Linked DNA regions of Homo sapiens. The protein of the gene in region 1 purifies or fractionates together with the protein of each later gene. This does not show direct contact. Each region holds a gene or a part of one and is shown in the gene's direction. Other genes may lie near its edges. The genes, in order: CIAO2A, TOP3B, CIAO3 and IREB2.

Region 1 (7,024 bases):
CAAAGTTGCCCTTATCCTTGTCATTGTTCTAGCTTCCTTATAAAGTCATTGTCCTTTTCATGTCCCTCCCTTCCCAGCTAAGGCCCTAGGAAGACATTTTCAGTTCCTACTTGCTTCCCCTTTTGCAAGCTGGCTTCAGCGCACGCACTCTCTACTGAAACTGCTTTCTTACAGCTGGCTGGGGTGACAAATGAAAGACCTGTTTTAGCTCTCATGAGCCTGAATTTTTCTGCAGCATTTAATGTTATTAACCATCCCTCTCTTCCCTCCTCTAGTTCTTTTTGCTTTTGTTTCTCATTCTGATCCCTAAGTTAGGTGCTTCGCATGGATCTGTTGGGTCTCTTTTTTCTTTATACCACTGATTCTCATACTGGGTTGTACCTAAGAACAACCCGAGAAATTTTTAAAACTCAAAGGCCAGCAAACCAATTAAATCAGAGTCTCTGGAATTGGGGCCCAGGCATCAGGTTTTTTTGTTTGTTTGTTTTTGTTTTTGAGACGGAGTTTTTGCTCTGTTGCCCAGGTTGGAATGCAATGGCGGGATCTCGGCTCACTGCAACCTCTGCCTTCTGGTTTCAAGTGATTCTCCTGCCTCAGTCTCCTAAGTAGCTGGGATTACAGGCGCCCGGCACCACGCCTGGGTAATTTTTGTATTTTTAGTAGAGACGAGGTTTTACCATGTTCACCAGGCTGGTCTCGAACTCTTGACCTCAGGCGATCCACCCGCCTCAGCCTCCCAAAGTGCTAGGATTATAGGCCTGAACCACGCGCCCGGCCTTGTTGTTTGTTTTGAAACATTCTTGGTAATTCCAATGTTCAGCCAAGGTTCTACTTATTCTTTGTGAATCCTGTGGGTTTGACAACCACTCTAGCTTTGATGCTGTTTTAAACTCTATGCTACAGTTTACCACTTGCTAGAAAACTCCATTGGATAACCCCTTAAGCACCTCAAAATCATTCTGTGTGAAATTGAACTCATTTGCTCTATGCCCCACCCAAATTTCTTCCTCGTTCTGTTTCTTTTAGTTCTGCCAGTGTTGTCCTAGATACTATTTTAGGCCTGGTGTTTTTAGCTGGTATCATTGGTTCTGCTTTTTAGTCTGAGTCTAGCAGCTGATGATGAGTTACCAGCTGACAGCACAGTGTTGTCCATGTCACTTGTCTCAAACCTCTTGAGGACTTGCTATTGCCGGTAGCTGGCTGTAAAAGACACTTGATGGTCAGACCCAAATCTCATACTCTAAAACACCTTTCACTTATGCCTGCTTCCAGGCAAACTAGGGTTCTTCTTCTTTACTTTACTTTCCTTCACTTTTTTTTTTTTTTTGAGACAGGGTCTCGCTTTGTTGCCCAGCCTAGAGTGCGGTGACACGATCTCCGCTCTCAACCTCTGCCTCCTGGGCTCAAGCGATCCTCCTGAGTGGCTGGGACCACAGGCCTGCACCACTACACCCGGCTAATTTTTGTGTGTATTTTTTGTAGAGACGGGGGTCTCATTATGTTGCTGAGGCTGGTCTCGAACTTCTGAGCTCAAGTGATCCTCCCGCCTTTGCCTCTCAAAGTGGTTGGTTTACAGGTGTGAGCCACCATGCCCAGCTACTTTCCTTCACTTTAAATGTCAAATATTGAAATGTTACCTATTTTTCAAGGCTTGATTCAGATTCCGCTCCTATAAAGCCTGATAACCACATTCTTTCAAGCTGAAAGTTATTTCTTCCTCTTGAGCTTCCATGACACTGTTTCCATTCTTATTATATTTTCTCTGCAATGTCCGATTGGAGAAACTGGATATGGTCTTATAATAATCCAAGAAAACAGTTTTCTCAAGAGGAAACCAGTAGTGAAAATTTCTGTCAGAAACCTGGGAGTTGCTGTACTATTTGCTTAAACGTAAGAGAAGTCAGTGCTTAAATTAGGCCTGGCAAAATCATCTTTATTTAGAATAGTCATGTTTTAATAGAATATCTTATCTCTGATGATTCTTTAGATTTGATTAGAACTATCCGGGACCCAGAAAAGCCCAATACTTTAGAAGAACTGGAAGTGGTCTCGGAAAGTTGTGTGGAAGTTCAGGAGATAAATGAAGAAGAATATCTGGTTATTATCAGGTTCACGCCAACAGTACCTCATTGCTCTTTGGCGACTCTTATTGGTAAGTTTTTCTGTACATACATGTATATTTATATAAATTCTAAGTTATTCTTGCTGATATTGACCCATAATAACAATTTGCATCATTGTTGAAAAACCATACAGTGTATGTATTACACTTTATGGTTTACAGAGTATGTTCGTGTATTCATCTTCTGTAGTCCTCACAATTAGCTTGTTGAGTTAAAATATTATTATCTTCATTTTGCAGATGAGGAACCTGAAGCTCAGAGAGTTTAAGTGACTTGCACAGAATCAGGTAGCCAGGAAATGGTGAAACTAAGGCTCATACCCAGGTCTCCTGACTCCACTTCTCCTTTAGTTATGTCAGGCTGCCCCTCCCAGGTATATATGCCCACAATTAATGGAGAGTGCATGTGGGCCAGTGCTTTTCCTCAGTTCTGGAGGTTGGAGTGGGTGGTGTCAGACTAGCATTGCTTCCATCACCATCTCCTTTCAGTGACTCTTCTGGTTTCTACATAGTATGGGTAGAAGTCCTGGTAGGAGGTTGGATTCCCAGTATTTTGGATTTGTTAGCAGGTACAATAAATGTATTTGAACATATGCTTTGTTATAAAGGGATTTTATTTCAAACCAAATGTTCATGAGTAGGGGATTGATTAAATAATCATTGATGGTGAATATAAACAGTGGAATACTATGCAGCTATAAAAAAGAATGAAGAAGCTCTGCATGTACTGATATGGAGAGATCTCTATGACATACTGTTAAGAAATAAAAGCAAGTATCATTTTGCTATCATTTGTGTAAAAAAAGCAAAAACATACATTTGTATTTGATTGCATATGCCTGAATAATATTAATACATAAATGAATAGCTATAAGGGTGTTAGCGGGTAATAGTGGTGGTGGGAGCTGGGCAGATGGGGGAAAGGGTGGGAGGGAGACTTTATACCTTTTTATGTTTTTACATTTTCAAACCATGGGACTATCTCACCTATTAAAAAGCAACAAGTTTATAAAAAAGATTGAAAAGGTCGCTATTTCGTTATTATTTCCACTATTGTGATTTCTGTCTTTTCTCACTGGTTGACCTGGGTTCCCTCTGCTGGTGGTTTCCACCATATAGGCCACATCTTGAGGGACTGGAGGTCTGTGAATCCATAGGTATTATTGTGGTTATTAAAATCCCATTGGTGACCGGGCGTGGTGGCTCACACCTGTAATCCCAGCACTTTGGGAGGCCAAGGTGGGTAGATCACTTGAGGTCAGGAGTTTGAGACAAGCCTGACCAACATGGTGAAACCCCATCTCCACTAAAAAAAATACAAAATTAGGCCGGGCGCGGTGGCTTACGCCTGTAATCCCAGCACTTTAGGTGGCCGAGGCGGGCAGATCACGAGGTCAGGAGATGGAGACCATCCTGGGTAACATGGTGAAACCCTGTCTCTACTAAAACTATAAAAAATTAGCCAGGCATGGTGACGGGTGCCTGTAGTCCCAGCTACTCAGGAGGCTGAGGCAGGAGAATGGCGTGAACCCGGGAAGCGGAGTTTGCAGTGAGCCGAGATTGCACCACTGCACTCCAGCCTGGGCATCAGAGCGAGACTCTTATCTCCCAAAAAAAAAAAAAAAAAAAAAAGCAAAATTAGCAAGGCATGGTGGCACACACCTGTAATCCCAGCTACTTGAGAGGCTGAGGCAGGAGAATTACTTGAACCTGGGAGGCAGAGGTTGCAGTGAGCTGAGATCATGCCATTGCACACCAACCTGGGCAACAAGAGCAAAAACTTCATCTCAAAAAAAAAAAATTCCCATTGGCATGGCGGCTCACACCTGTAATCCCAGCACTTTGGGAGGCCAAGGCAGTGGATCACTTGAGGTCAGAAGTTCAAGACCAGCCTGGCCAACATGGTGAAACCCCATCTCTACTAAAAATACAAAAATTAGCTGGGCATGGTGGCACGCACCTGTAATCCCGGCTACTCGGGAGGCTGAGGCAGGAGAATCGCTTGAACATGGGAGGTGGAGGTTGCAGTGAGCTGAGATTGCGCCACTGCACTCCAGCCTAAGCAACAGAGTAAGACTCTGTCTCAAAAAAAAAAAAAAAAATCCCATTGCTAGAAAAAGCATTACTGAATGCTGAATGCATGGTTATTTTTGGTCATTGGACAATTTGTGAACGAACAGATACTGAAAGTACTGCTGTGGGTGTTGTGGAGGGGGTGTCTTAAAATATTTTGACATATAAGAAAGAGTTCTTAAATGGAGAGTTCAAGAACCTATAGCAAATTTATTTATTTATTTATTTTTTGAGCTGGAGTTTAACTCTTGTCACCCAGGCTGGAGCGCAATGGTGCAATCTTGGCTTACTGCAACCTCCGCCTGCCAGGTTCAAGCGATTCTCTTGCCTCAGCCTCCCAAGTAGCTGCAATTACAGGCGCCCGCCACCATGCCTGGCTAATTTTTTTTGTATTTTTAGTAGAGATGGGGTTTCACTATGTTGGCCAGGCTGGTCTCGAACTTCCAATATCAGGTGATCTGCCCACCTCGGCCTCCCAAAGTGCTGGGATTACAGGTGTGAGCCACCACTCCCAGCCAGCAAATTCATTTTTAAAATTAACATTTATTTAAATTATATGAGTAACATGTTTATTGGCAGTAATTTTGATACCCCACAAAAACATAAAGAAAAAAACCAGCTATTATGAAAGAATGTCACTGGGTGCAGTGGCTCACTCTTGTAATCCCAGCACTTTGGGAGGCCGAGGCGGGCAGATCATGAGGTCAGGAGTTTGAGACCAGCCTGGCCAACGTAGTGAAACCCTGTCTCTACCAAAAATGCAAAAAATTAGCTGGGCGTGGTGGCGGGCGCCTGTAATCCCAGCTACGTGGGAGGCTGAGGCAGGAGAATCGCTTGAACCCGGGAGGCGGAGGTTGCAGTGAGCGAAGGTCACGCCACTGCACTCCAGCCCAGGCTACAGTGCGAGACTCCGTCTCAAAAAAAAAAAAGAATATATGCTCTGGGCTAAAATTCCAGGTCTATTGGCTGTACCGTATTGTGGGCTTCGGCAAGTTACTTAACCTTTCCAAGACCCAGTTTCCTTATCTGTAAAACAGGAATAATAAGGATATCTATAGAGTCGTAAGAGTTAAGTAATAGCATGAAATACATGAATTATTTTTCTCATTAAATATTTCTTTTTTTAAATTTTTTTTGTTGTTGAGACAGGGTCTCACTCTGTCACCCAGGCTGGAATGCAATGACACGATCTCGGCTCACTGCAGGCAGCCTCCACCTCCCGGGCTCAAGTGATCCTCCCACCTCAGTCTCCTGAAAAGTTAGAACTTCAGGCAGGTGCCACTATGCCTGGCTAGTTTTGCCATGTTGCCCAGGCTGGTCTCAAATTCCTGGGCTCATGCCTCAGCCTCCCCAAGTGCTGGGATTACAGGCATGAGCCACCATACCTGGCCATCATTAAATATTCTTTAATTATATAGTTATAGGTTACATGCTAATCATATTGGTACATCAGAAGTTTTGTAACCATTTGGACTACTTCTAGCCTTTTGCAATTATAAATAATACTGTGATGAGCAACTTTATTTTATTTTATTTTATTTTATTTTATTTTATTTTATTTTTTGAGACAGAGTCTCACTTTATTGGCCAGGCTGGAGTGTAGTGGCCACTGGAGCTTCCACCTCCCAGGTTCAAGTGATTCTCCGCTTCAGCCTCCCGAGTAGCTAGGATTACAGGCATCCTCCACCAAGCCCAGCTAATTTTTGTATTTTTAGTAGAGACGGGGTTTCACCATGTTGGCCAGGCTGGTCTCGAACTTGTGACCTCAAGTGATCTGCCCTCTTTGGCCTACCAAAGTGCTGGGATTACAGGTGTGAGCCACCGCGCCTGACCGAACAACTTTATATATAAATATTTTTATTTATTTATTTTTTGAGACGGAGTTTCACTCTTGTTGCCCAGGCTGGAGTGCAATGGCATGATCTTGGTTCACCACAACCTCCACCTCCCAGGTTCAAGCGATTCTCCTGCCTCAGCCTCCCAAGCAGCTGGGATTACAGACATGCACCACCACACCTGGCTAATTTTGTATTTTTAATAGAGATGTGGTTTCTCTATGTTGGTCAGGCTGGTCTCTAACTCCCAACCTCAGGTGATCCGCCTGCCTTGGCCTCCCAAAGTGCTGGAATTAGAGGGGTGAGCCTCCGTGCCTGGCCTTATATAAATATTTTTATATATCTCATTATTGCATCAGGATAAATTCCTATACGTGGAATAATTGGGTTAGATTATGTAAGTATTTTGAAGCCTCATGGTATATATTGGTAAATCCCTATCTGGAAGTTTATACTGTTTGACGCAGGAGTTAAGGAACTAATTTTATAGAAGAAAATATTCGCCAGACGTGGTGGCCCACACCTGTAATTGTAACACTTTGGGAGGCCGAGGCGAGAGGATCACTGGAGCCTAGGAGTTTGAAACCAGCAATCTCTTAAAAAAGAAAAAAAACATGAAAAAGCTTGAATAAGTTCAAATTGCATCATGATTGCAGTTATAGAAAAATGTGTACGTGGACAAATATCAGGAGAGTGCATGAAATAAAAACTGTTCTGTAAGGGTGCTAACATTAGATTATAGTTGATATTTCAGATCTGTACACTTCCTGTAGAAAGTTTTGTCTTAGCCCTTTCGTTATGCATTTCAGCTAAGACCATTGGCTTTTTATTTTTTATTTTTATTTTATTTTATTTTATTTTTTTTTGAGACAGAGTCTTGCTCTGTTGCCCAGGTTGGAAAGCAGTGGTGCTGTCTTGGCTTACTGCAACCTCTGCCTCCTGGGTTCAAGCGATTCTCGTGCCTCGGCCTCCAAGTAGCTGGGATCATAGGCGC
Region 2 (7,275 bases), on another chromosome or scaffold:
ATGGTGGCTCACGCCTGTAATCCCAGCACTTTGGGAAGCCAAGGTGGGCGGATCACGAGGTCAGGAGTTTAAGACCAACCTGGCCAACATGGTGAAACCCCATGTCTACTAAAAATTTAAAAAATTAACTGGGCGTGGTGGCGCACACCTGTAGTCCCAGCTACTCAGGAGGCTGAGGTAGGAGAATTGCTTGAACCCGGGAGGGGAGGTTGCAGTGAGCCGAGGTCGCGCCATTGCATTCCAGCCTGGGTGACAGAGCGAGACTCCGTCTCAAAGAAAAAAAAAAGACATGTTGAGTTCAGGTCATAGGACAGGCTGCCAAGAGCTGTTTCTCCATGTACCCTGCAAATGACTTGGGCTTCTGTGACGTTTTAAGCTCCACCCACTTCTGGGGACAGCAGAGTGACAGAAGTCCCCCTCCCAGACAGGGGAGAAGGATGGCCTCAGCACACAGCCAGTCAATTTCCTGTTCTTCAGCGCAGGTTTCATTGCCCTTTTATTCAAACTTCAAAAAGTAATCTTGGCCAGGCGCGGTGGCTCACGCCTGTAATCCCAGCACTTTGGGAGGCCAAGGCAGGTGGATCACAAGGTCAAGAAATCAAGACCATCCTGGCCAACATGGTGAAACCCATCTCTACTAAAAATAAAAAAATATTTAAAAATTTAAAAAATTAGCTGGGCTTGGTGGTGTGTGCCTGTAGTCCCAGCTACTCGGGAGGCTGAGGCAGGAGGATCGCTTGAACCCAGGGGGTGGAGGTTGCAGTGAGCCAAGATCGTGTCACTGCACTCCAGCCTGGCGACAGAGCAAGACTCCTCTCAAAAAAAAAAAAGTAATCTTTAAGGCTGTGCACGGTAGCTCATGCCCATAAATCCCAGAACTTTGGGCAACAGAGTGAGACCCCGTCAAAAAAAAAAAAAGTGGCTTCTGGAACTAGGTTGCTCTGCCACTTCCATCATTGTGTCCTGCTGGTTCTTTTTTTTTTTTTTTTTTTTTTTTGAGATGGAGTTTTGCTTTTGTTGCCCAGGCTGGAATGCAATGGCATGATCTTGGCTCACTGCAACCTCCGCCTCCTGGGTTCAAGCGATTCTCCTGCCTCAGCCTCCCGAGTAGCTGGAACTACAGATGTGCGCCACCATGCCCACCTAATTTTTTGTAGTTTTAGTAGAGACGGGGTTTCTCCATGTTGGTCAGGCTGGTCTCTAACTCCCGACCTCAGGTGATCCGCCCGCCTCAGCCTCCCAAAGTGCTGGGATCACAGGCGTGAGCCACCGCGCCTGGCCTATGTGTCCTGCTTCTTTATGTGTAAAATAAGGATAATAATAATATCTAATTCCTAGTGTTGTAATGAGGATTGTGTCAGTAACAGAACAGTGCCTAGAACAGAGTAAGTAAGCACTGCATGATGTTAACTATTAATAGTATTATCAAAATCATGGACCAGCCTATGCCGAACCAGAGAGAAGAGAGGTCCAGGAGCCCTCAGTTATCCCATCCACCATAACCAGGCACCTGCCCAGTAAGTGAGGAGGGTAAGGAAGAGGAGAAAAGTCAAGACCATGGTGGAAACACCCCAGGGCTCTGCTTCCTGAAGTCCCATGGCGGTGTCTGGGCACCTGAGTTTCTCTCATGGCCTCTGCACACTCCTTAGAGGAGGCCTCTGCAGGCAAGTCTGCTGCTACTCTTTAGGGGAGTCAGTTTCTCCCCAGCCATGGGGAAAGAAGAACGGCCCCTCTCGCTGAGTCGATCCTAGGCCACCATCTCCCTGGTCAGAGTGGAGCTGGGGTTGGGGGGAGTCCCAATAGGGAGACACCTCCAAGTTGAAGGGTTCCTCTGAATCTGGGTCATTTGTCAACCTAAGGGTCAGTCAGAAAGCCTGACCCAAAGCTCTGGCAGAGGGTCAGCTGCAGGGCTCTCCGGGAAGAAAGCACAAGGCAACTGCAGTTTCTCTGCTCTGACCAAGAACACTTCCCGACGCCCTGGCCTTCAGAGCTGACCACTCAGCGCCTCCTGCTGGCCCAGGCCTCAGGTCCTTCCTAGGGCTCCATACAATGAACTCTGGAACTGGATTGATGGAATGAGCTGAGGGCCTCTGGGTTTCTCTTTCAGCCAACTGGTAGCACCCAACAGAGCCAATCTTAGCCCTGGCTGGTATGTGGAGAACACACTGCAGGGCGGCAAGGTGGAGACCTGGAGGGAGAGGAGGAGCTCGGATCAGGGTGGTGGCAGGGAGGCAGGGAGACTTGAGGGGATCTCCGATATACAGTCTTCGATTTAGGACAATTTCCACCTACAGGATTTTTCAACTACAAAACCAGTATGCATTCTGCACGCTTCTTGACTCATGATGGGGCTACATCTGGGTAAGCCCATAGTAAGTTGAAAATACCATAAGTCAAAAACGTACTTTCGAGTCACAATATTTTCAACTTAAGATGGGTTTATGTGGATGTAGTTCCATCTGAAGTTGAGGAGCATCTGTATTGTAAAGACAGTAATGGCAGGATTTGTGGGTGGTCCAGGATGCTCCCAGGCTCTGTCCCTGAGCAACCAGGAAGATGGAGTTGCCATTTTGGAGACGAAGAACCTACCAAGGTGTGGGTTTGGAATCAGGAGTTCTGCTTTGAAAGTGAAGTCTCACCGTGACTCATAATTTGTGACATTTCCAAACCTTAATTTGCCTATAGAACTTTTCTTTTTCCAGAGCCTCTATCCAGACTACTTATTATTTATCAAAATAAATTAGATAAATAAATAACTTAATTTTAGAATTCATCTTCCAGATATACTTTACACAGATCATTCCAATAAAGGCAGGTTGGGGCCCGGGACAGTGGCTCACCCCTGTAATCCCAGCACTTTGGGAGGCCGAGGCAGGAGGATCACTTGAGGCCAGGAGTTTGAGACCAATCTGGGCAACATAGTGAGACCCTCCCCCTAGACCCCATCTCTACCAAAAAAAAAAAAATTAATTGGCTGGGCTTGGTGGCTGGCACCTGTGGTCCCAGCTACTGGGGAGGCTGAGGTGAGAGCATCGCCTGACGCCAGGAGATCGAGGCTGCAGTGAGCTGTGATCTCGCTACTGCGCTCCAGCCTGGGTGACAGAGTGAAACCCTGTCTTTAAAAAAAAAAAAAAAAAAACAGCAGGTTGGGAAAATCTACAAGGAACAAGGGCAATGTGTGTATGTTATTTAAAATAAGATCATAAAACGTATTTTAAACCTTCCATAATCCTAATGCTCTAACAAATAAATTAGTTGGCCGAGCGTGAAGAGTCACACCTGTAATCCCAGCATTTTGGGAGGCCGAGGGAGGCGGACCACCTAAGGTCAGGAGTTCAAGACTAGCCTGGTTAACACGGTGAAACCCCCGTCTCTACTAAAAATATAGAAATCTTTGGGAGGCCAAGGCGGGCGGATCACGAGGTCAGGAGATCGAGACCATCCTGGCTAACACGGTGAAGCCCCGTCTCTACTAAAAAAATACAAAAAATTAGCCCGCGTGGTGGCAAGCGCCTATAGTCCCAGCTACTTGGGAGGCTGAGGCGAGATCATCGCTTGAACCCGGGAGGCGGAGGTTGCAGTGAGCCGAGATTGCGCCACTGCACTTCAGCCTGGGCAACAGAGTGAGACTCCGCCTCAAAAAAAAAAAAAAAAATATATATATATATGTATACACACACATATATATACATACACATATAAATTAGCTGGGCGTGGTGGCGCACGCCTGTAATCCCAGCTATTTAGGAGGCTGAGGCAGGCGAATTGCTTGAACCTGGGAGGCGGAGGTTTCAGTGAGCCGAGATCACACCACTGCACTCCAGCCTGGGCGACAAGAGTAAAACTCTGTCTCAAAATAAATAAATAAATAAATAAATAAATAACTTAATTTTAGAATTCATCTTCCAAATATATTTTACACAGATCATTCATTCATTCCACAGATTTTTTTACAGCATCGAAAAGAAGCCTGCTATACACACATCGGTACATTTTTATTATTTTAATTATTAACAGCATAAATGTTTTCATGCCAGTTTTCATAATCATTGTAATGATAATTGTCATGATTGTCTCTCCGTGGCGGGGAAGAATCTGGGTGCAGGGCTTGGGGATCCCTGCGGTCCGCGGCGTGCAAGTGCCACTCCCTGGGGTGCTCCCGGAATCCGCGAGCCACGGAACCTAAGAACGCCGACCCGCCGGAGCCGGAGGGCAGACGCTGGCACACCGGACGCGGGGACGCCAGAAGCGGCTGGACCCGGAAATAGGGGTTGTCGGTAGCCGCCCCGGGAACAAGGACCGGAGCTGGATCCGCGGTGCGGCTGTGGGTGAGCGGCGGGCTGCGGGACCCTCGCCCGGCGGCTCAGAAAGGCGGGAAGCGCACGCATTTTTCTGGCTTGTTTCCTGAACGTTGGCCGGCGGAGGACCCGCGAGCTCGGGAGAGCGCCCGGGCCGGGCTCTGCATTCTTGTTGCCTCTTCCCTGGCGGGGGTGATACTCTCCCGCGGGGCTTGCTGTGGGGGTTCAGGGAGGTGGAGATGGGCCCGCCATGTGCCTGCAGGGAGCAGGCGCTGTGGTTAATACTTTTCTTCTTCGAACCCTCCCACAGCTCTTTAGGGTGAGATCTGCTGTACCAGTCTCACAGGTAGGGAAACTGAGGCTCAGGGAAGCTGTGCAGCCACCGGGGCCCAGATCGGTGCGGTACACACCCAGGCAGCTTCCACTCGCCGCCCCCTAGGCCCTGGCTGGGTTTTGAGGGCACCCAGGTTCTCTGACCTGTTATCTGTAAATGAAGTAGGGTACTTTTGTGAACAAATTAGCTGGAATCCAGGGGCAATAATTTCTCGCAGAAGTGAAAGGTAAGATGTTCCTAGTCTTGCCTTTTTATCTTCTCACCTTTTGAAACAGGACCTGAGAGGCCAGCCTAACTTGGGCTTGATGGCCAGCCAGTCCTGGGATTCTTTTGCCAAGGTCACCTGACACTAGTGTGACTTGTTCTGAACCTCCATTTACTCACAGTTTTAAAAAATTACAACACCTGCCTTATGGGGTTGCTGGCGAGATTGAATAGTGTTGATAGCTATGGTGTGCCTACTACAAAGGAGGAGCTTAAGAAATGGTTGTTTCCCTCTTTTCCTGATTCTAGAAGCATTTGGTAAAGTTACTGAGGTGGTAAATCCTAGGAATTTTAATGCTATTCAGACCACTGCTAGGCCTACTCCCAGGCCACATCTGCTTGTTTCTTTTTTTGTTTGTTTTGTTGCAGGCAGAGTCTCACTCTGTCACCCAGGCTGGAGTGCAGTGGCGCGATCTCAGCTCACTGCAACCTCCGCCCCCGGGTTCAAGTGATTCTCCTGCCTCAGCCTCCTGAGTAGCTGGGATTACAGGCATGCGCCACCACGCCCAGCTAATTTTTGTATTTTTAGTAGAGACCAGGCTTCACCATGTTGGCCAGGCTGGTCTTGAACTGCTGACCTCGGGTGATCCACCTGCCTCAGCCTCGCAAAGTATTTGCTCACTGTCTATTTACCGTGAGAATGCACAAAGCAAAACCCGTGTTCTCCTGCTGCTTACTTACTTTCTAGGAGCTGTAAGACAAGAGCTGAATAAGTAGATGGAAGCTGTACCAAGTGTAGTGATGAGTGCTACAAGGAAGCAAAGCTGGGCTGCTGTTCCATCAGAGTGCTCACAGAGGCAGGACAGGATCAGGCTTGGGGCACGGGTTCTAGAACAACCAAGTCCAGCCACTGGAGCTCTGGTCTCTCTGACCCCACAGTCCCAGTCTAGGCCAATAAAATGGCAGCACCTATTAGCATCCCTGCCTAGGATGCTGGCAGGACTGCCTGGTCCCTGGTGTGTCCTCATTATGTCATACATAATTGCTGACTACTCTGTGGCATAGACATGAGAAAATCTGAGGAAACATTTTAGGACAAAATTTCCTACTTTGGAAGAGATGGGAAACTCAGACCCTCACAGAACAATGCCCCTCTGCTGCGAGTTTTCCCTTTTGGCCTCTGGCTTCCCAGGGTGAGAGAAGGGGAGTCCCTAAATCTCTTTTAAACCTCACTTCTGGGCCTCTGATTTTGGTAGAATCAAAACTTCCCCAGAACGGAGAGCAGAGGCCAGTCATAATCACCTTGGTTGTTCATTCATTCCCTCAGCAGGCATTTAGTGCATGCTGGGTGCCAGAAATATGGCAATGAACCTGACAATTGTGGGAGAGACAGACTGCTGACGCCAGATGCAGTCTTCAGGAGGGGAGGGGCAGGGGTCAGAGCAAGTAGACTAAGGGGGAAAAGTGGCCTAGGCCGAAGCCTGCTGGCGCACAGGGAGGAAAGGTGGGTGCGCAGCAGAGCCTTGGGAGATGCAGCTGGAGCTGTCATGGGCCAGAGAGCTCATCTGCAGACAGTGTCGTCATTCCACAAGGCCTCGGCTCTTTCACTGTGGGATGGTTGTACATTTAAGGGGAACATCCACTTACTTATTTTGAGGAAAAAAGCAAATTGTCATTTTATTTGGGACAGCTTTCTGGTCAAGATTACTGATTTCACTGTAGTCCTGTGATCTCTTAAGTGGGGAACAAGGTTGACAGCCCAAGGCCGACCTTGGACCTCTTCCCCTGCACAGCATGATGAGCAGCAGAAGCCCCTTTAGTGAGGGAGTTCCTTTGGCATCCTTTCTGAACAATGCCCTTTACAACCCTCCTTTATTTTTCTGGTTTTATTGTAAAGTCCCTTGTCTTAGTTCTTGTCCCTCAGTCACCTGTGTCCAGGCGCTAAATGTAAAAGGTGCAAAAGGGAATGTGGTGAGGAGGCACCCCCAGCCCTGACCTCCAGGCCCTAACACCCACTCCAGGTGATTGCTTGGACTGTTTGTTTTGCGTTCCATCCAGACATATCGCCTCTTCATAATCAAGTGCACACGTGTGCACACATATGTGTGATCACAGATGGCAGTGCTCTCTACACACCGTTACATGCCCAGCTTTCTTAGCATGATTTATTTCAGTGATCTGATCCACGTTAGTATGTACCAAGCAGATGCTTTCCTTTGTAATGCTGCCAGGTGCTCTACTGTAGAGAATGCCATGCTTTTTTTTTTTTTTTTTTTTTTTGGAGATGGAGTCTCACTCTGTCGCCCAGGCTGGAGTGCAGTGGCGCAATCTCGGCTCACTGCAAGCTCCGCTTCCCGGGTTCACACCATTCTCCTGCCTCAGCCTCCCGAGTAGCTGGGACTACAGGCGCCTGCCACCATGCCCAGCTAATTTTTAGTA
Region 3 (7,024 bases), on another chromosome or scaffold:
ACCCAGTCGCCTTACTCCTCTGGCTGTATTCCGGGCCACTGCAGCACCCCTGGCCCTGCTCAAACCATTCCTGCCTTTGCAGGAGAAGTTGGGGGAGCTCGAGCTGGGTGCGTTTTGCATGTAAGAAAAGTTGCTGAGGCATGTCCCGGAGGCCCCCGACTGGAACACCTTGTTCCTGCATCTGTTTGGCGAGTCTGACGGTTGTTTCTGCCCCGCCCACCGGAGGCCAGGCTCCCAGGCTTCCTCCCTCTGCTCTCCTCTTCCTGTGCCTTCGTCCTTTCCTCCTTTGTCCTCAGCTTTCCCGCCTCCTCCTTTCAGAGCCCACCTTCGGCATTTTCCTGCCCTACAGCCCTGTGAGTGTGCACCGGGGCCAGCACCCCGTCCAGGGCCCCATGGGTGAGTGGGGTGGCTGCTGCTTTGCTGAGATACCAGTGGCAAGCCTTAGTCCTGTGATTCGGATGCACTAACCAAGTGGTACCAAGAAGCAGACTTGACGGCATTATGAAACTGTAGAGCGTGCGTGTGCATTTTTGTAATACATACCTAATTTTTAAAAATTCAGCGGCACACAAGCCCAGCCAGCAGCCATGTTGGTTGTCGGTTATGAGCTGGACTCCACTATCCTCTGTCTCCATGTCCTCGTGCAGAGGGGGCCCCTGTGCACCGGGTTCTTCTCCCTTGTAGGACGGCGGGACCCGGAGGCTGGAGAAGGCCAAGGTCTCGCTAAACGACTGCCTGGCGTGCAGCGGCTGCATCACCTCCGCAGAGACCGTGCTTATCACCCAGCAGAGCCACGAGGAGCTGAAGAAGGTTCTAGATGCTAACAAGGTAAGCAGTGGTCGGCCTGGTGACTCTGCTTTAACCTGAAATCCATCCCAGCAGCCGACAACGCGTTTTGCCAAGGGCAGCTCGTGTGGTGCCGACGTCCGTCGTGCGGGTGGCGCCTGCCTTTTTGAGGCTTGGAATCTTGGTGATTTGTCAGTGGGCTCCAGTGGTGAACGTGTCAGGCCCCAAACTTCAGGTTCTAAATATACATCAAAATGACACCCCTACTGGGCGCGGGGGCTCACGCCTGTCATACCAGCACTTTGGGAGGCTGAGCCGGGTGGATCACCTGAGGTCAGGAGTTCGAGACCACCGTGGCCAACATGGTGAAACCCCGTCTCTACTAAAAATACAAGAATTAGCCAGGTGTGGTGGCACATGCCTGTAATCCAAGCTACTAGAGAGGCTGAGGCAGGAGAATCGCTTGAACCCAGGAGACAGAGGTTGCAGTGAGCCGAGATTGCGCCATTACACACCAGCCTGGTGATAGAGTGAGACTCCATCAAAAAAAAACGATACCCTTGGCCAGGCACGGTGGTTCACGCCTGTAATCCCATCTACCCAGGAGGCTGAACCTGGGAGGCGGAGGTTGCATGCAGTGAGCTCCGATCGCACCACTGCACTCCAGCCTGGGCAACAGAGTGAGACTCTGTGTTAAAAAAAAAAAAAAGACTCTTGATGGAGCTGGCCTGCCCTCTCCACAGCTGACAGCATCTCACCGTGCGGCTCTGGCCACCAGGAATCAGCATAAGGCCAGCAGAGTAAGCAGCGTCTTCCCCTTGCTTTGCAGATGGCGGCACCCAGTCAGCAGAGGCTGGTTGTAGTTTCGGTCTCACCACAGTCTAGAGCATCGCTGGCTGCACGGTTTCAGCTGAATCCTACAGATACTGCCAGGAAATTAACCTCATTCTTTAAAAAAATAGGTAGGCTTTGAACCTGGGGTAACACTGCCGCTCCAAATCAAGGGGGCGTCTGAGTAAGCCCAGGCCCCTCGCGCCTCTGAGTCACTGACACGCTACCCAGCCCTGAACTTCAGCGCTACAGAAACTTTATTCCCTCTGTGACCTCAGCCTGAAGTTTTGATTTGACATTTGAGAGCAGGGCCTTCTCACAGAACACGTCTGCATTCTGACTGTGCACTTTCTCTAAGCTGGGGCTGACCAACTCCTTGTACTTTTTAGCTGATAATATTAAGGCACTCTCTCCGGGGCTCTGTTGGGTTCAGCCAAGGTCAGCTTCTGCTGACTTTGGTTATGTGCCTGGAGCTGGGCTTGGGGAGGATCTGGGTGTCTTGAGAGCCCCCAGCTAACTAGGCTCCAGTGCCTGGTGTCTCACTGGGAATGAAGGGGCTGGACCTCATGGTTACTGTGTGCCTTTCACAGGTAACCACCATGTCCAGTCCCTTCATTCCCAGTGAGGCAGGCCTGTGCGCCTTGTAACCAGCAGACTGCCTGTCATCCAGCTGTGTCCCAGGTCCCTCACACTGGAAACCTGGTGACACTGGCAGGTGCCCCATGGCTCCTGTCTGACCCATATCCAGTTGGTGCCTGAGCAGTGCTCTGGCACTGGGAGCCTGACCTGGTGTCCCAGGGAAAACCTGGCCTGGGGCAGCCCATGGTTCTCCAGATGGAAGGTGTGGATTTCGTCCCCACCAGAATAGGAAGCAAGTTCAAAGATTTTTACTTAGAGATGATGATGACGGGCAAGTGGGGCACAGCGAGTCCTCCGACCACGGGTTACGCGAGGGAGGAATGACAAGTCAGGCAGAGAGAGAGGGACCCACACGCGGGTGCCTCTGCTGGGTCCAGGGCACGATCAGGCAGGTTTACTGAGCAGTTCTAATGGCTGGGCTTGGAGCTGGCTGGCGTGTTCCAGGAGTCCTGCTGTGTGTGAGGGGTGGCCACTATGGTAGGTCTGCACAGTCAGGGTCCGAGGGGCCAGTCCAGCAGGCTGCGTCCAGCTGTGCCCTAGGGAGGGTCACCGGGAGCAGCGCACGTGGCAATTCCCTGGACCAGCCACGCTGAAGAGCTGGGAGGGTGGAGGACTGAGCTGCTGGGTGGCTGCCTCTGGGGTGGGAAACCAAGGCCTGGGTTCACAGGGGATGCCGAGGCAACGTGGCTTTAGGAGGTCCCCACAGTGGGGCTGGGGCTTTGGCGCAACGTGGCTTTAGGAGGTCCCCACGGTGGGGCCGGGGCTTTGGCACGGCAAGCAGGTGCGACACACGTGCCCTGGCAGCACCATGGTGGTCCACACGCCGGCGTGTGCTCGTGTGGGCGTCCCGCATGGGGTTAACCAGGCACCCACCTTCACCTTCCAGGGGTGCACTTCGTCTTCGACACCGCCTTCTCAAGGCACTTCAGCCTCCTGGAGAGCCAGCGAGAGTTTGTGCGGCGATTCCGAGGACAGGCCGACTGCAGACAGGCGCTGCCCCTGCTGGCCTCTGCCTGCCCAGGTGTGCTCATGGTGCGGGTGGTGGGAGAGTCAAGTTCAAGTGCAGTTGAAACGTGAGGTGATATGGACACAAATGACAAGGCGGGGGCATGGGGGGTGGAGACGCAAGCAGGTTTTGCGGGACGGGTTGGAAATGTTGGCACAAATGGCCTTTTCTGGAGAAGAGGCTGCCCTCCCGTGGGAGCCACGCGCAGTCACCTCAGGTCCCTAGGCGGTGTCGCCTGCACGCCGAGCTCCGCGTGGTGGTGGGGAGAACAGGAATGAGCACTCTTTAATGTCATCATGATCTCCTGTATGAGCGGGCCCGCCCCCAGAATGTCGTGCTGCTGCCTGTGGGTGCGGGGGCCGCCGTGCGCCCCCGCCAGCCCCGTGTGCCCCCTGTCACCTCAGGCTGGATCTGCTATGCCGAGAAGACTCACGGCAGCTTCATCCTCCCCCACATCAGCACCGCCCGGTCCCCGCAGCAGGTCATGGGCTCCCTGGTCAAGGACTTCTTCGCCCAGCAGCAGGTAACGGCGTTGGGCCAGCCCCAGACTCAGGCTGGGGAGCGGCCAGAAGTGACTTTGCTGGCCTCTTGCCATGAGGCTGCAGGAAACAGAGTCCTCGCTGTGCTGTGCGGCCTTCCCCAGCACACCTCCACCCTTGTTCCCTCCTGGTTCAGGCCCTTCCTCTTCTGCAGCAGAGGGCTTCGTTCTGATCCAGAGGTGCTCACTGCTCACCCAGAGGCAGCCAGGCCTGAGGCTGAGGGAGCAGGAGGCCCTGGGCAGTCCGGGCCTGGAGCCCACCCCTCCGGCCACCAGGTCCACGAGGATGCCCAGCACGACCCCCACCTGAGGCCCAGCGGGATAGAAGCCTGAAGACACTCAGCCAGCAGGGGGCGGGAGAGGGCGAGGGCGGCCCCGGTGGTGCCTGGGCCTCGAGCGCCCATGTCCCCTGCGGCACCTCTTGCCTGACTGCACGCGGATTTTCACCCGGGGCTGGAGCTGGTTGGTTCCCCCGTGACATCCGTTTCCCCGGCTGCTGTGCAGTGAGACGGCCCGAGCCGTGGGAAGGCCACTTCTCCTCCGCTGGACTTGGCTGTTAGGGAGCGCAGGCACACTGGGAATGGGTCAGTGTCATTTTCTGTCACAGCCAGGGCCCGTCCTGTCCAGGGACACATCCGCAGAGCCGGCAGGAGGCTTGCTGGGAAATGGAGTGAGGCTCACTGTCCCTCGGGGTCCGGCCTGGCTGCAGGATGGCTGAGTTCCAGGTCCCGTCTCAGCCACCTTACTGCTGGGATTGGGGAGACAAGTGTTTGTTTCTCCTTGTAGCACTTGACCCCTGACAAGATCTACCACGTCACAGTGATGCCCTGCTATGACAAAAAGCTGGAAGCCTCCAGACCCGACTTTTTCAACCAGGAGCACCAGACACGGGATGTGGACTGTGTCCTCACAACAGGTGCGGTCACGCCGTGCGGCCCTGAGCCCTCAAGCCTCCTGGTCTGATTCCTGAGCCCTGGGCACAGGTGGCGACTGCCCAGGATCCTGCCTGTGGGGGCCCTGGCTGGAGTGTGGGGGCTCGCATGCGTGCACGTACCTTCGTCTCTCCCCTTGGAGCCAGGTGGGCCCATTTGCAGCTGGCCTGTCTTGGGGACCTGCAGCCAGGTGGCGCTCAGTAATACCTCCTTGTTGGCTCTGAAATGAGTCTTTGGAGGTGGGCAGAGATTCTCGAATGCAGCCTCTTCAGCTCCCATGAGTCACCCCATTCCTGAGTCGAGCAGCCCCACAGTCTCCCAAATGTGAGGCAGAAAAGCAAACTGTGGCCGGGCATGGTGGCTCACGCCTGTAATCCCAGCACTTTGGGAGGCAGAGGTGGGTGGATCACGAGGTCAGGAGTTCAAGACCAGCCTGGCCGAGATGATGAAACCCCATGTCTACTAAAAATACGAAAATTAGCCGGGAGTAGTGGTGGTGCTCCTGTAATCCCAGCTACTCGGGAGGCTGAGGCAGGAGAGTCACTTGATCCCGGGGGGCAGAGGTCGTAGTGAGCCGAGATCGTACCATTGCACTCCAGCCTGGGCGGCAGAGTGAGACTCCGTCTCAAAAAAAAAAGAAAAGCAGACTGCCTAAGAGGATGGACAGATGGACACTGGGTGAGCAGAGTGGCCTGGCCGCTGGCACACCTCCCTGGGCAGGACCAGGCAGCCTCCAGAGGGGCTTCAGGAGTGACCGGGCCTGGCCTCCCCACCACGGGCTAGGGTGGACATTTGGGGCCTTCTGGGGCCAAAGTGCAGACTGCTGGGGATGCAGGTGGCTTGGATGTTCTCTGACTTTGTTGCTGGGATCTCCGCTAAAGAGTGTCTGCGCTGTGGCTTCTTTGCAGGAGAAGTTTTCAGGTTGCTGGAGGAAGAGGGCGTCTCCCTCCCCGACCTGGAACCAGCCCCTCTGGACAGCCTGTACGTATGTCTGCCACCAAGAACTGTTATTTTAGCTTCTAACGCTGCCTCTGAGGATAGCATCCCCCTGCTCTGGGCTTGCCTCCCCGCAGCCCATCTTGGCGTCCACAGAAGTGGCTGGATAGCCAGGCGCAGTAGCTCACGCCTGTCACCCCAGCACTTTGGGAGGCCAAGGTGGGCAGATCACCTGAGGTCAGGAGTTCGAGACCAGCTCGGCCAACATGGTGAAACCTCATCTCTACTAAAAATACAAAATTTAGCCAGACATGGTGGTAATCCATGCCAGGCCCTGTAATCCCAGCTACTTGGGAGGTTGAGGCATGAGAATTGCTTGAACCCAGGAGGCGGAGCTTGCAGTGAGCCAAGATCACGCCACTGCACTCCAGCCTGGGCGACAGAGCAAGACTCCGTCTCAAAAAAAAAAACAAGAAGTGGCTGGGCCCCTGTGATGGCTGGTGACACAGGAGCTGTTCCTCTGTGTCTGTGACTTGTCTCCCACCTGGAAATGCAAACGCTCATGTGTGAGGGACAGAGGCCCTGCTCGGGAGGTTGGCAGGCAGCAGCCCCAGCTGTGCTGAGGCCCCTCCCTCCTTGCCAGGTGCAGCGGTGCCTCTGCAGAGGAGCCCACCAGCCATCGGGGAGGGGGCTCGGGGGGCTACCTGGAGCACGTGTTCCGGCACGCGGCCCGAGAGCTCTTTGGAATCCATGTGGCTGAGGTTACCTACAAACCCCTGAGGTCAGTGGGATGGGCCAGATCTCTGGGCAGAGCGGCCACACAGCCCCCAGCCTTCCTCGGGCTGCTGCCTCCCCTGGGGTCCTCCCACAGAGGTGGGCTGGGTGGAGGGCAGCCTGCAGGGTTTGGAGGGGACCCTGGGGCCAGGCAGGGCCCTCCTGGCGGGCTCAGGGTGTGAAGGCACCTAAGCACTCCAGGCCTCAGTCGGCCCATTGTGGGGGATGGTGACCCTGAGCCCGAGAGGCCAGCATGGGCAAAGGTGATGGGTGCCTGGCGCAGGCACGCGACCACATCCCAGGAGGGAGGGCCAGGGCCTCACAGACATCCCTGGGGAGGGAGGCCTGTTTCACAGACAGCCCGAGGCTGGAGGTGAGGTCCCCTGCTGGACTCAAGGAAGTGAGCCTTCCACCCTCTCTCTCCGTTCTTGTCCTTCCCTCTGCCCAGGAGAGAGGGAGAGAGCCCTGGGAGGTACCCGGTCATCCCCTGAAGCCCAGCAGGCCTCCCCTTCCAGGCAGGCAGGAGCCTGGTGGGTGTGCCATGTAGACAAACCCCGCCTGTGCCCCCCAGGAACAAAGACT
Region 4 (7,024 bases), about 14 Mb from region 1:
ATAAATACGAATATACTTACTCTGCTTTAGAAAGTAATGCTTCAATTGGAATCTGTCGTAAGGAATTAATTCTAATTCCTTGTTCTTTCTCTTTCTCATTTCTTAGGTGATCCAGATTAATCTGAATTCAATAGTTCCATCTGTTAGTGGTCCAAAAAGACCTCAGGATAGAGTTGCTGTGACAGATATGAAAAGCGATTTCCAGGCTTGCTTAAATGAAAAGGTAGGTTACTTTATTCTTATCCGTGTTTTTCAACCCGCTTTGTGCTAAGTAGTAAAGAACCAACAAGGTGACCCATAAACTCAATTCACTGCTATGTTTTATATATTATGGCACACACCAGCAGCCCCCTTATTTTCCTTCTGTCTAATGTGCAAGTCAGTCATTAGGTAAGCTTGTTCCCAGTTCCATTGTGAGGATCAGAGATTGATTGTGTCTATTTAAATTAAAATTATATACAATTTAAAATTGAGTTTCTTAGTCACAGTAGTCTCATTTTTAAATGCTGAATACATATGGGTCTTGTATTGATGAACAGCATAGATAATTGAATAGTTACATCATCACAGAAACTTTTTTTTTTTTTTTTGAGACAGAGTCTCACTTTGTTGCCCAAGCTGGAGTGCAGTGGCACAATCTCGGCTCACTGCAACCTCCCCCCTCCCGGGCTCAAGCGATTCTCCTGCCTCAGCCCCCAAAGTAGTTGGAATTACAGGAGTCTACCATCATTCCTGGGTAATTTTTGTATTTTTAGTAGAGACAGGGTTTCACCATGTTGGCCAGACTGGTCTTCAACTCCTGACCTCAAGTGATCTGCCCACCTCAGCCTCCCAACAGTGCTGGGATTATAGCCATGAGCCACCGCACCTGGCCTACAGTCATAAAATTTGGTAAATGTGACCGAGTAGCAAGTGGTCTCTGGCTTTTGAGGGTTTGTATTTTCTGTCTGAGAATCACAGTTTTAGTCTTGTCACTTTCTCTATTCTGAGATCTCTAGTACTTGGCTTTCCTTTCAGAGCCTTTCTTTTTATGATTTCTTGACTTTTTGTTCAGAAAGTGTTAAACTTGTACAAAAACAAAATAGTCCACTGAATTGCCATGTACCTGTCAATTAGCTTCAATAATTAGCAACTCATAGCCAATCTTGTTTCAGCTATGCTACACTCACACACATAGGATCCCTTTGGAGGAAATCTTCGGGGTCATTTTAACAGAAAAAAATTTCTGCCATCTCTTGAGAATTACTATAAACAGGGATGATTAAGAACAACAAAGCCAAATGAGATCTGGATTCTGGGTGGTAGGCTGGACTCGCTTAGTAGATAAAAGTTTTGCTTGTGAACATCACCAGACTCCTGTCGTGCCCATGCAGATTTATGCTTCAGCTGAATTACAACTACTGAATGTTATGGGCCTTTAGCATCACTCACAAAAAGGATTTTTAATGTTAAATCATCAAATGTCCGGTATCTGCTATGTTTTCTGCCAGTCTTTTATTCTGTACATACCCAGAATATTTAGTTTATATTTTTGTGGAAATTTGTATAGGTTGGATTTAAAGGCTTCCAAATTGCAGCTGAAAAACAAAAGGATATTGTCTCCATTCATTATGAAGGAAGTGAATATAAGCTGTCTCATGGATCAGTGGTCATTGCTGCAGTTATCAGTTGTACCAATAATTGCAATCCATCTGTCATGCTTGCTGCAGGTGGGTTGTGGTTTATGGCCATACTTTTTCTTTTTCCTTAATTATTGTTGGCTTTTCTGTTATTGTAACTTTGTTTCTTAGATGATGCATGAGTGTCTACATTTGATATTGAGAGACTTTCTAGTATTTTAGTTAGGTCTTAAGGAGCCTGAGTTTGATTTATGTTGTTTTTATTACACCGAAGGTAAATTTACTGTTTACTATAACTTACCTGTCAATTAATTTTAGGTTGTATCTGCTTCTCTTGTTAATTTAGAACTATAGTTAATTAGCAGGTATTTCTTGATTATCTAGAAGTTAACCATAACAGTGTGGTAGATTTCATTAAAAGTTATAAAAGTAGTAAAAGATCATTGTCTTGGCAAGGATTGTAAATGAAATTAATTTGTATGCCCATTGGAACAATTCCTTAGTTGTATAAAACCATGTATAATGTGTTACATTGCTCTTATTGTAATTATGACTTTAAAATGGTTTGCTTTAGAAAAAAGAAGAAAGAGAAAAAATGGTTTTGTTAACATGTACTTATATATGTGCACCTTTTGTTTACTCTGTGTGAATGATGTCAGCCTGTATCTTAATAATTTTCAACATAAAGGCTGTAATTTTAAATTTGTTGTAAATGAAGCAAATCAGTAGAATAAAGTGGACAAAATAATGACAGTAAGTTTATGAATTCATACTTTAATCTGTTAAATAAATTACTTCTCACTTTTTACTTTAATATGGGTGAGAGAGGGAAAGAAACATTGCCATAATAAATCATTGTTTGTTGGCTGTGCAGGTCTTTTGGCTAAAAAGGCTGTTGAAGCTGGTCTGCGTGTTAAACCTTATATAAGAACAAGTTTATCTCCAGGCAGTGGGATGGTTACACATTACCTCAGTTCAAGTGGAGTATTACCATATCTAAGTAAGCTTGGGTAAGTAACAGCTATCGCACTTCATATTGATATTGGTGTTCAGTAGGTACTGAAGCTGCTTGTTTGTGCCTTTCATATACAAAGAGAAGATAGAAAAAATATGCTTTAGTTTTACTTGCTACCTTGCCATTACCATACAATTTTTGATGCCTTATCACTCAGGAAACACTTATTGGGCATATCAAATGAGCAAAGCACCAGGTTGGATACACAGAAGTAGGAGATGTGGTCTTAGCTTCAAGATACTTAGTTGGGAAGACAAGACAAACAAGTACAACCAAATAACAGTTACAGTGTAAGAAACGATACCAAGTATGCACAATTTCTGTGAGTTGTGTAGGTCAGTTCAAAAAAGAAAGAAATCTTATAGTTTGCATTTATTAACTGAAAATTGTCTTAATTTTAGTTTTATGAGGTTATTGGGTCTATAATACATAAGTTTAAATTGTCCCTGAACTTTGGAGAAAGTAACTTATGTTTTTTGGGCTGGGCGCGGTGGCTCACGCCTGTAATCCCAGCACTTGGGGAGGCCGAGGCAGGCAAATCATGAGGCCAGGAGTTTGAGACCAGCCTGGCCAATATGGTGAAACCCCGTCTCCACAAAAAATACCAAAATTAGCCAGGCGTGGTGACGCACACCCATAGTCCCAGCTACTCAGGAGGCTGAGGCAGAAGAATTGCTTTAACCTGGGAAGCGGAGGTTGCAGTGAACCCAGATCGTGCCGCTGCACTCCAGCCTGGGCGACAGAGCGAGACTCCATCTCAAAAAGAAAAAAAAAAAAGTAACCTATGTTTTTTATGTAATCCAAAACAATTGATGCTAGTTGTGTGGGGATTTTTTGGTTTTGAGACAGTGTCTTGCTCTATTGCCCACACTGGAGTGCAGTGGTGCAATCACAGCTCATTGCAGCCTCGACCTCCTAGGCTCAATCAGTCTTCCTACCTCAGCCTCCTGAGTGGCTGGGACCGCAGGTGTGCACCACCACACCCAGCTAATTTTTATGTTTTTAGCAGAGACAGAGTTTCACTGTGTTGGCCAGGCTCGTCTCAAACTTGTTCCCTTAAGTGATCGGCTCGTCTTGGCCCCCGAAAGTGTTGGGATTACAGGCCTGAGCCACCACACCCAGCCTAGTTATATTTTCGGTGTGTATTTTGGAACATATGAGTCATCAATTCCATTGCAAAACTGATAAATTTTAGACTTTTTTGCTTTTAGAATAGCATCTGAAAGTAATTTAGAGGACTGTGCCTGTAATCTTTTGGTTATATTATCTTGGATTTATTGTCAGAGACTCTTCTTGGGTTTAACTGGTTGATAATTGAGAGATTACTCCTATCAGAGTGCCCAATTACAATCAATGCCTCTTTTGGGACCTTTGGTCAGGTTATTATAGCCAGGTCCTCTTTACATTTTAAACTCTTGGATGGAAGTACAGTATCAATTATTTTAAAAGGTCATGTTATATTCCTAGCAAGTAGTATTTGGGGGAATTCTCTTGTACAGTGATAAGTGCTATTAAGGCTCTTCAAAGGTTTGCATTCACCTTTGAGACCAGCCTGAGCATTTTTATTTTTTATTTTACAAAAAATAAAAAAATTAGCTGGGCCTGGTGGCGAGCGCCTGTGGCCCCAGCTACTTAGGAGGCCAAGGAGCAGGATTGCTTGAGCCCAGGAGGTTAAGGCTGCAGTGAGCTGGTTCAAATAGCATGCCTGAGAGTTAGACTTGATTGCTCAGAATCTTCTGAGGTGAATATATTGATGAAGGTTAATCCATGTGTCATGAATAGTCTTTTAAGTAATCTTATTACAGTGATAGAAATACAAGATAAGACTTGTCCTTTCTCTATAAATGTTGTGATGTGCTATTCAGTCACTTTTTTTTTGAAATGCAGATTTGAAATCGTTGGCTATGGATGTTCAATTTGTGTGGGAAATACAGCACCCTTATCAGACGCAGTTTTAAATGCAGTAAAACAGGTAAAATGTGTGGATTGGCAAGACATCTAAATGATTTTCTTAACTATGTTTTGTTACTAAATTATAGAAAATATATATTGATGTGTTTATATTTCTGTAAACTCTGCACCTCTTGGCAATAGTAACCTGTGAATCTTTAAATGATTCAATGAATCATTTGTAGATCCTTGAAATAATTCCTTCATAATACAAGGAATTGATTTAGTTTATTTGCAAGATGCATAGTTCTATATTTAAAAATTAGTAATATGTTTTTTGGTTAATCTCGCCCTCAGACTTTAAGATTGCTTATATATGATTATCCAGATTTGTACCATCTCTAGAATTGAATTTATTTGTTTGTGTGTTTGTGTTTTTTTCAGGGTGATTTGGTTACCTGTGGAATTTTATCTGGAAACAAAAATTTTGAAGGTCGTCTTTGTGATTGTGTTCGTGCCAATTATCTTGCCTCTCCACCCTTAGTGGTAGCTTATGCCATAGCAGGCACAGTGAATATAGATTTCCAGACAGAACCTTTAGGTATCTTTTCCTTTATGTATATGTATACCTACACATACTTTTCCCAATGGAAGTCGTTATATTTTTGAAATGTTTCTTAGACCATCTATTCTTTGAATTATTTCAGGAAGACGTATGATAATGTATAGTTATTAATTTCTGTGTTTATGTGAAGAAAATAAAATGTACAGGTAATTAGTTCTTCCAGCCGCTTAAGCCTGAAGCACCCTGTTGAATCATTTACTTGATTTCCATGATATGTCTTTGAAAAGGTATGAACATTTTCAGAGTTATTTTTTTACTGAGTATCATGTTCAAAAATTTTAACCAGGTACTGACCCCACCGGCAAGAACATTTACCTGCATGATATTTGGCCTAGTCGAGAAGAAGTTCATCGAGTAGAGGAAGAACATGTTATACTATCCATGTTTAAAGCATTAAAAGATAAAATAGAAGTAAGAGTCTTATGTGTTTCTTAAATAGTTTAATCAATTTGCAGTGTTCTTTTATTTCATATATCTTCTGAATAGAATAAAAATTAAAATTACATTATTTTGAATACAGTTTTTAATGTGTAATAGTAAGTTTGTATCTGGAATCTGTAGTTAAAAAGAAAATGGCGGCTGGGCACAGTGGCTCACGCCTGTAATCCCGACACTTTGGGAGGCTGAAGCAGGTTGATCACGTGAGGTCCGGAGCTCAAGACCAGCCTGACCAACATGGAGAAACCGCATCTCTACTAAAAATACAAAACAATTAGCCAGGCTTGGTGGCGCATGCCTGTAATCCCAGCTACTCAGGAGGCTGAGGCAGGAGAATCACTTGAACCTGGGAGGCGGAGGTTGCGGTGATCCGAGATCGCGCCACTGCACTCCAGCCTGGGCAACAAGAGTGCAACTCTGTCTCAAAAAAAAAAAAAAAAGAAAGAAAATGTCTTAGAGGATCAGAATTCATTAGTGTTGATTGGATGATCTGTGCAGCAAACCACCATGGCACACATTTACCTATGTAACAAACCTGCACATCCCGCATATGTACCCCAGAAGTTAAAATAACAGTTGAGGGGGGAAAAGAAAGAATTGATTAGGTGTTCAGAATACATCATTGAACAAAACACAAAATTCTCCTGGGGAGAGGCAAATAAGCTGTAAAGAGAATAATTAGCTAAATTATGCAATATTTATTATTTTTTATTATTTATTTTTTGGTGTTTTTTGGGAGATGGCACCCCACTCTGTCACCCAGGCTGGAGTGCAGTGGCCTGAAGCAGCTCACTGCAGCCTTAACCTCCTGGACTCAAGCAATCCTGCTCCTCAGCCTCCTGAGTAGCTGGGGCCACAGGCGCTCACCATCAGGCCCAGCTAATTTTTTATTTTTTGTAAAATAAAAAATAAAAAATGCTCAGGCTGGTCTCAAACTCCTGGACTCAAGTGATCCGCCCACCTCAGCCTCCCAAAGTGTTGGGTTTACAGGCGTGAGCCACTGTGCCTGGCCTAAGAAATGGTGAGATTTTTGGCTGTAGTTTGAAGGCGTTGATGTGGAACAAATACATTGAAAAAGCAGAGGTTTTTCTCCATTATAACATTCTTAGACATTAACAGCATACCTCATACATGCTTAATCTCTCTGTAGCAACATATAGAAATCTTTCTAAATTCTTTAACTTTTTTGGACTCTGTGAAGTCTTTATGTTCTGTTTATATTGAAACTTGCCCCTTGGAGTGTTCCTGAACATCTGGTATGCTAGAATTTGAGGAGCAAATTTTTAATCATTCTGTCCAAAAACATCATGATTTTTTAGAACACACTGTTTTGGCTGGGCATGGTGGCTAATGCCTATAATCCCAACCCTCAGGGAGGCCAAGGCCCACGTATCGCTTGAGCTCAGGAGTTTAAGACCAGCCTGGGCAAAAATAAAA

What was found.
Region 2: the proteins of CIAO2A (region 1) and TOP3B purify together in Homo sapiens (affinity purification with mass spectrometry; 2 studies listed by BioGRID and IntAct, with this or other methods). This does not show direct contact.
Region 3: the proteins of CIAO2A (region 1) and CIAO3 purify together in Homo sapiens (affinity purification with mass spectrometry; 4 studies listed by BioGRID and IntAct, with this or other methods). This does not show direct contact.
Region 4: the proteins of CIAO2A (region 1) and IREB2 purify together in Homo sapiens (affinity purification with mass spectrometry; 3 studies listed by BioGRID and IntAct, with this or other methods). This does not show direct contact.

What each region holds. Positions count from the first base shown.
Region 1 is NC_000015.10:64,083,815-64,090,838, reverse strand, and holds part of CIAO2A (cytosolic iron-sulfur assembly component 2A), read left to right. Parts: intron 1-523; exon of another isoform or gene 524-641; intron 642-1,987; coding exon 1,988-2,152; intron 2,153-7,024. UniProt on the Homo sapiens protein: Component of the cytosolic iron-sulfur protein assembly (CIA) complex, a multiprotein complex that mediates the incorporation of iron-sulfur cluster into extramitochondrial Fe/S proteins.
Region 2 is NC_000022.11:21,979,783-21,987,057, reverse strand, and holds the start of TOP3B (DNA topoisomerase 3-beta-1), read left to right. Parts: upstream 1-4,270; 5' UTR 4,271-4,328; exon of another isoform or gene 4,329-4,644; intron 4,645-7,275. UniProt on the Homo sapiens protein: Releases the supercoiling and torsional tension of DNA introduced during the DNA replication and transcription by transiently cleaving and rejoining one strand of the DNA duplex.
Region 3 is NC_000016.10:730,990-738,013, reverse strand, and holds part of CIAO3 (cytosolic iron-sulfur assembly component 3), read left to right. Parts: intron 1-684; coding exon 685-828; intron 829-1,615; coding exon 1,616-1,748; intron 1,749-3,142; coding exon 3,143-3,277; intron 3,278-3,666; coding exon 3,667-3,785; intron 3,786-4,586; coding exon 4,587-4,716; intron 4,717-5,640; coding exon 5,641-5,713; intron 5,714-6,311; coding exon 6,312-6,449; intron 6,450-7,013; coding exon 7,014-7,024.
Region 4 is NC_000015.10:78,483,212-78,490,235, forward strand, and holds part of IREB2 (iron-responsive element-binding protein 2), read left to right. Parts: intron 1-106; coding exon 107-223; intron 224-1,549; coding exon 1,550-1,709; intron 1,710-2,493; coding exon 2,494-2,629; intron 2,630-4,521; coding exon 4,522-4,606; intron 4,607-4,968; coding exon 4,969-5,125; intron 5,126-5,435; coding exon 5,436-5,560; intron 5,561-7,024. UniProt on the Homo sapiens protein: RNA-binding protein that binds to iron-responsive elements (IRES), which are stem-loop structures found in the 5'-UTR of ferritin, and delta aminolevulinic acid synthase mRNAs, and in the 3'-UTR of transferrin receptor mRNA.